Linked DNA regions of Homo sapiens. The protein of the gene in region 1 interacts with the protein of each later gene in a pairwise test. Each region holds a gene or a part of one and is shown in the gene's direction. Other genes may lie near its edges.

The links. The genes of interacting proteins can lie anywhere in the genome.
Region 2: the proteins of PLXDC1 (region 1) and C5AR2 interact in a two-hybrid assay, tested with the Homo sapiens proteins (one large-scale study listed by BioGRID and IntAct).

What each region holds. Positions count from the first base shown.
Region 1 is NC_000017.11:39,137,333-39,142,829, reverse strand, and holds part of PLXDC1 (plexin domain-containing protein 1 precursor), read left to right. Parts: intron 1-2,997; coding exon 2,998-3,176; intron 3,177-5,497. UniProt on the Homo sapiens protein: Plays a critical role in endothelial cell capillary morphogenesis.
Region 2 is NC_000019.10:47,334,531-47,339,782, forward strand, and holds part of C5AR2 (C5a anaphylatoxin chemotactic receptor 2), read left to right. Parts: intron 1-2,564; exon of another isoform or gene 2,565-2,639; intron 2,640-5,252.

The sequences.
Region 1 (5,497 bases):
TGGTGCAGTGGCTCACGCTTATAATCCCACCACTTTGGGAGGCCAAGGTGGAAGGACCGCTAGAGCCCAGGAGTTCAAGGCCAGTGTAGGCAACATGGTGAAACCCAGCCTCTACGAAAAATACAAAATAAAATAATAATAACTAGCCGGGTGTGGTGGCATGCAACTGTAGTACCAGCTACTCAGAAGGCTGAGGTGGGAGGATTGCTTGAGCCTGAGAGGTCAAGCGTACAGTGAGCTGTGATTGTGCCACTGCACTCCAGCCTGCATGCTAGAGTGAGACCCTGTCTCAAAAAAAGCATGCATTTAACAACCTAGAGGGAACTGGAGAGGAGATCATGGAACCTAAAGCCATTTCGCAACCTCCAGAAATGGAGGTTCGCATGGCCGCGAAATGGCCTGTGTGTAGTCACTTTCCAATCCTGTGCCCATGGCAGACATTGCTTATTGATCTTCACAGTCCTTCCTGCTAAATACAAGAGGAGCCTTTGCATTCTCAGTTGGAGTGCCTCTGGCTGTCACGAATGGATTGCAGATGGCATGTGATATGAAACCTATTTGCCATCCTAGACAGTATCTAGGTAGTGATAGGAGTAAAACAGTAAAAAATTACCCCTCCCTCAATGGGGCAAGGGGGGGTTAATTTTATTCCCCAGGGGATATTTGGCAATGTTTGGAGACGTTTTTCATTGTCACAGCTTGGGATGGGGAGGAGCGTGGTGCTACTGGCATTTAGTGAGCAGGGGCCAAGGCTGCGGCTGCTAAACATCTTACAGAGCACTGGACAGTTCCCGCATAACAATGAATTATCCAGTCCAACCAACAATCCAATTTAAAAACAGGAAAAAGACTTAAATAGACATTTCTCCAAAGAAGATATACAAATGGCCCACAAGCATATGAAAAGATGTTCGGCATCACTAATCATCAGGGAAATGCCAATTTATAAAAACGATGAGATATAACCTCATACCTGTTAGGATGGCTACTATAAAAAAAACAGAAAATAACAAGTATTGGCAAGAATGTGGAGAGATTGGAACCCATGTGCACGGTTGGTGGGAATGTAAAATGGTCCAGTCATTTTACATGGAAAACATTTTATATGGAAAACAGTATGACAATTCCTCAAAAAATTAGAAATAGAATTACCATACAATCCAGCAATTCCGCTTCTGGGTATATACCCAAAAGAATTGAAGGCCAGGTCTCAAAGAGATATTTGTACACCCATGTTTGTAGCAGCATTGTTCACAATAGCTAAAACGTGGAAGCAAAACAGACATCCATTGATAGTTGAGTGGGTTAGCAAAATGTGGTATATCCACACAATGGAATATTATTCAGCCTTCAAAAGGAAGTCAATTCTGCCATATGCTACGACATGAATGAACCTTGAATTTATTATGCTAAGTGAAATAAGCCAATCACAAAAAGACAAATATAGTATGATGCCATTTATATGAGATACTTAGAGTAGTCAAAATCATAGATACAGGCTGCGCGCTGTGGCTCATATCTGTAATCCCAGCACCTTGGGAGCCAAGGCAGGAAAATTGCTTGAGACCAGGAATTCAAGACCAACCACCCTGAACAAAATAGTGAGACCCTGTCTCTATAAAAAGTAAAAAGATTAGCTGGGCATGGTGGCGCATGCCTATAGTCCCAGCTACTTAGGAAGCTGAGGTGGGAGGATCGCATGAGCCCAGCAGTTGGAGGCTGCAGTGAGCTATGATCGCACCACTACTCCCCAGCCTGGGTGACAGAGCAAGGCCCCATCTCTTAAATAAAATAAAATAACAGGGGTGAATAGGGAGTTATTATTTAACGGGTACAGAATTTTAGTTTTACAAGGTGAAAAGAGTTATGCAGATAGATGGTGGTGATGGTCATACAACATTAGGAATGTATTTAATGTTACTGAATTGTACACTTGGAAATGGTTAGATGGCAAATTTTGTTATGTGTATTTTGCCACAATAAAAAAATTGGAAAAGGAATTATCCAGTCCAAATGTCAATAGTACCGAGGTTGAGAAGCCCTGAACGAAAAGAACTCTGGCTTCTAGTCCCCTGACCCCACTGGGAAATAGGATTATGTGCCATTTCTGCCAGAGAAATAAGAAACTGGTTTGGAAGGCTCAACGGCAATGGTTCTCACCCTTGCCTGCAGAGTTAAGTCCAAGACTCCTCAAAATCTCCCCTGAGGCTCTTTTAAGAAATCGAGGCTAGGCGCGGTGGCTCACGCCTGTAATCCCAGCACTTTGGGAGGCCGAGACGGGTGGATCACGAGGTCAGGAGATTGAGACCATCCTGGCTAACACGGTGAAACCTCGTCTCTATTAAAAATACAAAAAATTAGCTGGGCGCGGTAGCGGGCGCCTGTAGTCCCAGCTACTCGGGAGGCTGAGGCAGGAGAATGGCGTGAACCCTGGAGGCGGAGCTTGCAGGGAGCGGAGCTCGGGCCACTGCACTCCAGCCTGGGTGACAGAGCGAGACTCCATTTCAAAAAAAGAAAAAGAAAAAGAAATTGAATGCCCAGGCTACACCATAGACCAGTTACAAGAGATCTCTAGGGTGGGACCCAGACATCAGGAACTTTTGAAGCTGTCCAGGTGACTCCAGTGTATAGCTGAGGTTGAGAATAATCACCCTTTGGAGGCAGATCAGCTTGGGTTTGAAACTTACCTGCATGCCTAACCCACTGCGTGACTTTTAACCTCTGAGCCTCTGATTCTTGTTTGCAAAATGGAGAACATCCTAACTACTGCGGAGAGCTGGCATGAGGATTAAAAGGATATGTGCGAAGTGCTTGGCCTGGAGCTGGGCACGTGACTCTCAGTACACATTGGGTGTCTCCTGTCCTGGTAGTCAGTCAAGTGTCTGCAAATTCTACAGTGGCATGGTGTTGGGGCCCTTGCAGAATAACTGGGCTGGATTCCCCTCCTGATCTTCATTCCGGACTGCTGGCACTCAGGTTTCTGTCCCCTTCTCCCAGGTCACGATGAGGGCCCAGGCTCTGGATGGGCTGCCAAAGGGACCGTGCGGGGCTGGAACCGGAGAGCCCGAGAGAGCCCTGGGCATGTGTCAGAGCCGGACAGGACCCAGCTGAGCCAGGACCTGGGTGGGGGCACCCTGGCCATGGACACGCTGCCAGATAACAGGACCAGGGTGGTGGTGAGTGCTGGAGGAACATGGAGGGGGAGCGAAGTGGGGGTGGGGGAGGTCTCACCAGCTGCCCCAGGTGTGCTTGTCCTACATGCAAATCACATATCATTTGGGGTTGGCCCCGGAGGACAGGGTGGAGAGAAGAATCCCCGGGGAGGGGATGGAAGCAGGGCCCAGACTGGGTCATAAAATCACAGCATCTCAGCGTTTCATAGGCTGCCTACTCCCTCCTGGACCCAGAGACATCAAATGGATTGTATCAGGATGCACAGCCTGACCACAGCATTCCTGAAACTGGACTCTCCCATGACTTAGGGAAGAAAAAGCTGACAGTGGCCTTATGAGTCACATCTCAGCTGCCAGATGGGGCCCTTCCCCACCCCATTTCTGCCCCATCTACAGACTGGGGCGCAAGAGGATTAATGGCTGCTTAGCCTAAGGGCTGGGCACTCAGCAGGGGGCTGAGTAGAGAAAGCAATTAGGGTGCAGCTCCTGGAGACAACCTCCTTGGCCTGGGGCAGTTCTGGGGTGCTGGCACAGGGAGGAGAGGCCTGGAGGGAGTGCTCTTCTCTCAGGGTTTCCGGGAGGCTCTTGGAAGCCTCGGTGTGTCTGGGGGTGAATCTATTAATATAATTGTGCGTTTCTGGGAATGGGTGTGTGTGTCATGGACGCTGGGTTCGCACCTGTGTCAGATGATTTTGTATATTATGTATGTGTACCTGTCTGTCACTGTGGGCTGTTTGTGGGTGTCTGTGATGAGCATGTGTAAGTGTGAGTGTGCCTGTGGCTGTGTGTGTAGGTGCCTGCGGCTGGGAGTGATGAGGGTGGATTCTTAGGACGCAAGAAGCAACAAGAGGACCTTCTTCTCAGTATAGATTTATTTTATATTTTAATAACTATTTTCTTAAATTAGTATGTGCTGACAGTTAAAAAAAAAAAAGGTTAAATAGTGCTAAAATCATAAAACAAAACAGCAGTCCTGCCCCTCCTCTCCCCTGGGGCCTGCCCCCTTCCCTTTCTCAGAAGGCTCTGTCTGGGCTGTTTCCTCTGGAGTTTACTTCCATATTTCCAAGGGATTTGCTTATACTGTACTGCTACCTCTCTGTGCACTGGTTTTAGGCCGTACCTATTCATGGCCTGCTGCGGCTCAGGGAGATTTGGCTTTTGTATACTCCCGCTGAGCAACCTTTCACCCTGCCGCCCAATCTTCCTGTTCAATCCGTGTGCTCGGTTGTGGATTGTGACGATCATGTACATAGTGTTCACTTCTAATCCAGGCAGGGTCATAACATTGTTTCTTTTCTTGTATGATTTTGGCTCTTCCTGGATCCTGGCCCCCTCTCCTGCCCTTGCTTACTTAGTTTTCTGTGCCTACCGTAGCTACATTTTCCTACACGTCCCCTAGCCTCAAATGTAATTCCAGTGTGGGCTGGGCATGGTGGCCCACACCTGTAATCCTAGCACTTTGGGAGGCCCAGACGGGTGGATCGCTTGAGCTCAGGAGTTCCAGAATAGCCTAAGCAACATAGTGAGACCCACGTCTCTAAAAAATTAAAACAAAAATTATCTGGATGTGGTGGTTTGCCCCTGTAGTCCCAGCTACTTGGGAGGCTAAGGCTGGAGGATTGCTTGAGCCTGGGCGGTCAAGGCTGTGCTGAGCTGTGACCTCACCAGCCTGGGAAAAAGAAGAAGACTCTGTCTCCGAAAAAATATAAAAGAAAGAAAATAAGATAATTCAGGGTGGTCAAACCTGTCAGTTCCTTTATCCCCCCGAGAAACTTCTCTCCTGTCCTGCACTCCAATCCCGCCCAGCCACTCGCCTGCTGGTACCACGGGTGCCATCCTGGGGCCTCCCTTTCTGTTCGTCCTGGGAACCCCTTTGTCTCCCTCCTGTGTTGGATCCCCTGTTCCCTTGACCCTGTGTCTTCTCTTTCCTGCTTCATCCTTTTGTTTGTTTAGCTTCCTGGGAAAGGTTGCACAGAGGGAAAAATTCCCTTGAGAACGTGCATGTCTGAAGATATCTTTATTCTGTCCTTTCATTTGACTAGTGGTTTGGCTGAATATAGAATTCTAGATTGAAAATAATTTACTTTTTCTTTTTTTTGAGATGGAGTCTCGCTCTGTCGCCAAGGCTGGAGTGCAGTGGCACAATCTTGGCTCATTGCAACCTCCTCCTCCTCCTGGGTTCAAGCGATTCTTCTACCTCAGCCTCCTGAGTAACTGGGATTACAGGTGTGTGCCACTATGCCCAGCTAATTTTTTGTATTTTTAGTAGAGATGGGGTTTCACCATGTTGGCCAGGCTGGTCTCAAACTCCTGACTTCAAGTGA
Region 2 (5,252 bases), on another chromosome or scaffold:
GCTGAGGCAGGAGGATCAGTTGAGCCTAGGAGGTAGAGGCTGTGGTGAGCCGAGGTTGAACCACTGAACTCAGCTTGGGTGACTGAACAAGACGAAAACACAAAACAAAAGCCCCCAACATTTTCAACATAAGTTGAAAATATTGTAAATCAAATTGGATTTAATACACCTAGCTTACTGAACATCATAGCCTACTTTTTTTTTTTGAGACAGGGTCTCACTCTGTTGTCCAGGCTGGAGTGCAGTGGCGCGATCTTGGCTCACTGCAGCCTTGACCTCACGGGCGTAGCCTACCTCAAATGTGTTCAGAACATTTACATTACCCAACAGCAAGACAAAATCATCTAAGCCAAATCCAATTTTTTTTTTTTTGAGATGGAGTCTCACTCTGTCACCCATGCTGGAGTGCAGTGGTGTGATCTCAGCTGACTGCAACCTCCACCTCCCAGCTTCAAGGGATTCTCCTGCCTCGGCCTTCTGAGTAGCTGAGATTACAGGCACTCGCCCCCACGCCCAGCTAATTTTTTTTTTTTTTTAAATCTTTAGCAGAGATGAGATTTTATCATGTTGGCCAGGCTGGTCTCAAACTCCTGACCTCAAGTGATCCGTCTGCCTAGGACTCCCAAAGCGTTGGGATTACAGGTGTGAGCTTCTGCACCTGGCCCTGTTTCTCATTATTCTCCTTACCATTGTTATTGAATGGCCTTTAGTTAATAAGCACCACTTGGGCAGACAGTGGACTGTTTTTGATGCTTTGAGGACGAATGGGGTTGATATCTGTACAGATAGACAGGAAAACAGATATCGGGCACGTTAAGTGGAAAAGATGAAGAAATGGAACAACGTATGTTGAAAGCTCCCATTTCTGGTTAAGACGTTACAAAGGAAATGCCATCTACGATACCATTGCTTTGGGCTTACAGCTGGGCAAATTATATGCACAGAAAGTTTCCTGGATTGGGCTGGGCATGTTGACTCACGCCTGTAATCCCAGCACTTTGGGAGGCCGAGGTGGGCGGATCATGAGGTCAGGAGATTGAGACCATCCTGGCTAACACGGTGAAACCCTGTCTCTACTAAAAATACAAAAAATTAGCCGGAAGTGGTAGCGGGCGCCTGTAGTCCCAGCTACTCGGGAGACTGAGGCAGGAGAATCATGCGAACCCGGGAGGTGGAGCTTGCAGTGAGCCGAGATCGCACCACTGCACTCCAGCCTGGGCGACAGAGTGATACTCCGTCTCAAAAAAAAAAAAAAAAAAAAAAAAAAAAAAAGAAAGTTTTCGTTTTCTGGATTGTAATCAACAAGGGCCAGGAAGGGTGGAGTCTTTGCGGGGTGAGAGGATGCGTGTGGACAGTGATAACAGCAGCTAGCCTACGTATGACACCCACTGAAAACCAGCGCTATACACTCAGCTCTACCCTTCTAACTTGTTGAATTCTTACAACACCCCCTAAGGCAGGAATATTATTATTCCCATTTTACTGAGGCACAGATAGTTTAGGTGACTTGCCCAAGGCCACACAGCTGGTAGGAATTTGAGGGTTTTTGTTGTTGTTGTTTGTTTGTTTGTTTTTTATGATGCAGTCTCGCTGTTGTCGCCCAGGCTGGAGTGCAGTGGCATGATCTTGGCTCACTGCAACCTCTGCCTCCCGGGTTCCAGCGATTCTCTTGCCTCAGTCTCCCGAGTAGCTGGAATTACAGGAGCCCACAACCATGCCTGGCTGATTTTTGTATTTTTAGTAGAGACCAGGTTTCACCATGTTGCTCAGGCTGGTCTTGAACTCCTGGCCTCAAGTGATCCGCCCACCTCGGCCTCCCAAAGTGCTGGGATTACAGGTGTGAGCCACTGTGCCCGGCTAGGGGGGGTTCAGTTTTTAAATGCTGTACTCTTTCTTTCTTTCTTTCCTTCCTTCCTTCCTTCCTTCCTTCCTTCCTTCCTTCCTTCCTTCCTTCCTTCCTTTCTTTCTTTCTTTCTTTCTTTTTCTTTCTTTCTTGGGACAGGGTCTCACTCTGTTGCTCAGGCTGGAGTGCAGTGGCGCGATCATGGCTAACTGCAGCCTCAAACTCCTGGGCTCATGTGATCTTCCACCCCAGTCTTAGAAAAGGTTGGGATTGCAGGCACGAACCACTATGCCTGGCTAATTTTTAAATTTTTTGTAGAGACAGAGGGTCTCACTGTGTTGCCTAGGCTGGTCTTGAACTCTTGGCCTCAAGCGATCCTTCCTCCTCAACTCAGCCTCCCAATGTACTGGGATTACAGGTGTGAGCCACTGCACCTGGCTAAATTCTGCACACCTTTTACTCTAGGGATAAAAATAATACGAAAGTGGAATGCCAGACTCCGAATACACACACCAAGTGGCCTGGACTCTTCACTGCTACCTGGCATGGGGGAGGGGAGTGCCCCAACTTCCTCTCTGTCCTTCCTGTTGCCTCAACACCAGCTGGAGTGCTGAGCAGTGCCAGCCAACCCATAATAGTCAGCAGAGAGCCTCAGGGCCAGGTCACTCTGACATTGTGGGGGTGGGGGGGTGGGGACTCCTGCCTGGGTCCTGTGCTACCCACAGCTTTGTCTACCGGAGCCTGTGTGCCACGTGCTGGACAAATCTTAACTCCTCAAGGACTCCCAAAACCAGAGGTAGGTTCACCTCAATGACTCTTGTTTCCCCGATGAGGAAATAGGCACAGCCAGCTGCAACTGACACCCACAGTCATGGAGGCCGGGGCTGCTCAGGACCACTTGCTGTGCTGCCTGCCAGCTCTCCAGAGCCCAAGATTTGGAGATGGTAATATTCTAGGGCATGGGGTTCTGCAGCGGGGACTAACACACTTTGAAATTTACCTACTTAGGGCTGGGCGCGGTGGCTCATGCCTGCAATCCCAGCACTTTGGGAGGCTGAGGTGGGCGGATCACAAGGTCAGGAGTTCGAGACCAGCCTGGCCAATATGATGAAACCCCGTATCTACTAAAAATACACAAATTAGTTGGGCATGGTGGCGGGTGCCTGTAGTCCCAGCTACTCAGGAGGCTGAGGCGGGAGAATTGCTTGAACCCTGGAGGCGGAGGTTGCAGTGAGCCGAGATTGCGTCACTGCACTCCAGCCTGGATGACAGAGCGAGACTCTGTCTCAAAAAAAAAAATTTTACCTACTTAGCTGAGTGATCTTAGGTAAATTACTTAACTTCTCTGTGCCTTATCTGTAGAATAAATATAACAATAGTGTCAAATTCAGACAGTTATTATAAGGTTTCAGTGAGGTCAGGCACGGTGGCTCATGCCTGTAATCCTAGCACTTTGGGAGGCCGTGGCAGGCAGACCACTTGAGGTCAGGAATTCCAAACCAGCCTGACCAACATGGTGAAACCCCGTCTCTACTAAAAATACAAAAAATTAGCCCCGGGCATGGTGGTGCACGCCTGTAATCCCAGCTACTCGGGAGGCTTGTGGCAGGAGTAATGCTTGAACCCAGGAAGCAGAGGTTGCAGTGAGCCAAAATAGCGCCACTGCACTCCAGCCTGGGTAGCAGAGTGAGACTCCGTCTCAAAAAAAAAAATAAATAAAATAAAATAAAACAAGGTTTCAGTGATACAGTGTTTAAAGCTGCGTGGTGGCCACTGCCTGTAGTCCCAGCTACTCAGGGGGCAGAGGTGGGAGGATCACTTGAGCACAGAGTTTGAGGCTGCAGTGAGCCGTGATTGCACCACTGCACTCCAGCGTTGGCAAGATGGCGAGACCCTGTCTCTAAAAAAAATATATATATATAAATTTGCCAGGTGTGGTGGTGCACACCTGTAGTCCCACGTACTCAGGAGGCTGAGGTGGGAGGACCACTTGAGCCCAGGAGTTCGAGGCTGCAGTGAGCCAAGATAGTGCCATTGCATTCCAGCCTGAGTGACAGAGCAATATCTGTCCCTAAAAAAAAAAAAAAAGTTGACACAAAACACAAAATGTTCAAGAAACAGTGGCTTCCAATAATAATAATTTTATTATTATTATTATTGTCAGGCACAGTGGCAATCATGCCTGTAATCCCAGCAGTTTGAGAGGCTGAGACAAGGCAGGTTGCTTAAGCCCCAGAATTCAAGACCAGCATGGGCAACATGGTGAAACCAGATGACCTCCAAAATAATAATAATAATAATAATAATAATAATAATTAATCAGGCATGATGGTGTGCACCTGTAGTCCTAGCTACTTGGGAGGGTGAGGTGGAGGGTTGCTTGAGCCCAGGAGATGGAGGCTGCAGTGAGCTGGGAAAGTGCCGCTGCAGTCCAGTCTGGGCTACAGAGCCAGACCCTGTCTCAAAAAATAGTAATAATATAGTAATAATATTATTGTGGCCCGACATGGTGGCTCACGCCTGTAATCCCAGCACTTTGGGAGGCTGAGGCAGGTGGATCACCTGAGGTCAGGAGTTCGACACCAGCCTGGCTAACATGGTGAAACCCCATCTCTACTAAAAATACAAAAATTAGCCAGGTGTGGTGGCATGTACCTGTAATCTCAGCTACTTGGGAGGCTGAGGCAGGAGAATTGCTTGAACCCAGGAGGCGGAGGTTGCAGTGAGCCGAGATCATGCCACCACACTCCAGCCTGGGCAACAGAGCAAAACTCTGTCTCAAAAAAAATAAATTATTGCTATGATAGATTATGTCGCTTCCTTGCTCAGCACCCTCCTATAGCACCTGTCTCATTTGGAATAAATGATGATGTCCTTGCGTTGCCCACGTGGCCCTACATGCCGTGGCCCCTGATAACTGTTTTTCATTTGTTTTGTTTTGTTTTGTTTTTTTCTTTTTTTGAGATGGAGTCTTGCTCTGTTGCCCAGGCTGGAGTGCACTGGCATGATCTCAGCTCACAGCAACCTCCGCCTCCCTGGTTCAAGTGATCCCTCCTGCCTCAGCCTCCTGAGTAGCTGGGATTACAGGCGTCCACCATCACTCCAGGTTATTTTTGTGTTTTTAGGAGAGATGGGGTTTCACCATGTTGGCCAGGCTGGTCTCAAACTCCTGACCTCAGGTGATCCACCCACCTTGGCCTCCCAAATTCCCGTGATTACTGGCATGAGCCACTGTGCCCGGCCCCTGATGACTCTGCTATTGCCTCTCACCCTCTCCCTCTGGCAGATTCCACTCCAGCCACACTGGGCTCCTTGCTGTTCTTGGACATGACCGTCATGTTCCCACCTCAGGGCCTTTGCACTGGCTGTTCTCGATGCCTGAAACACTCTTCCCCCAGATCTCGATGCA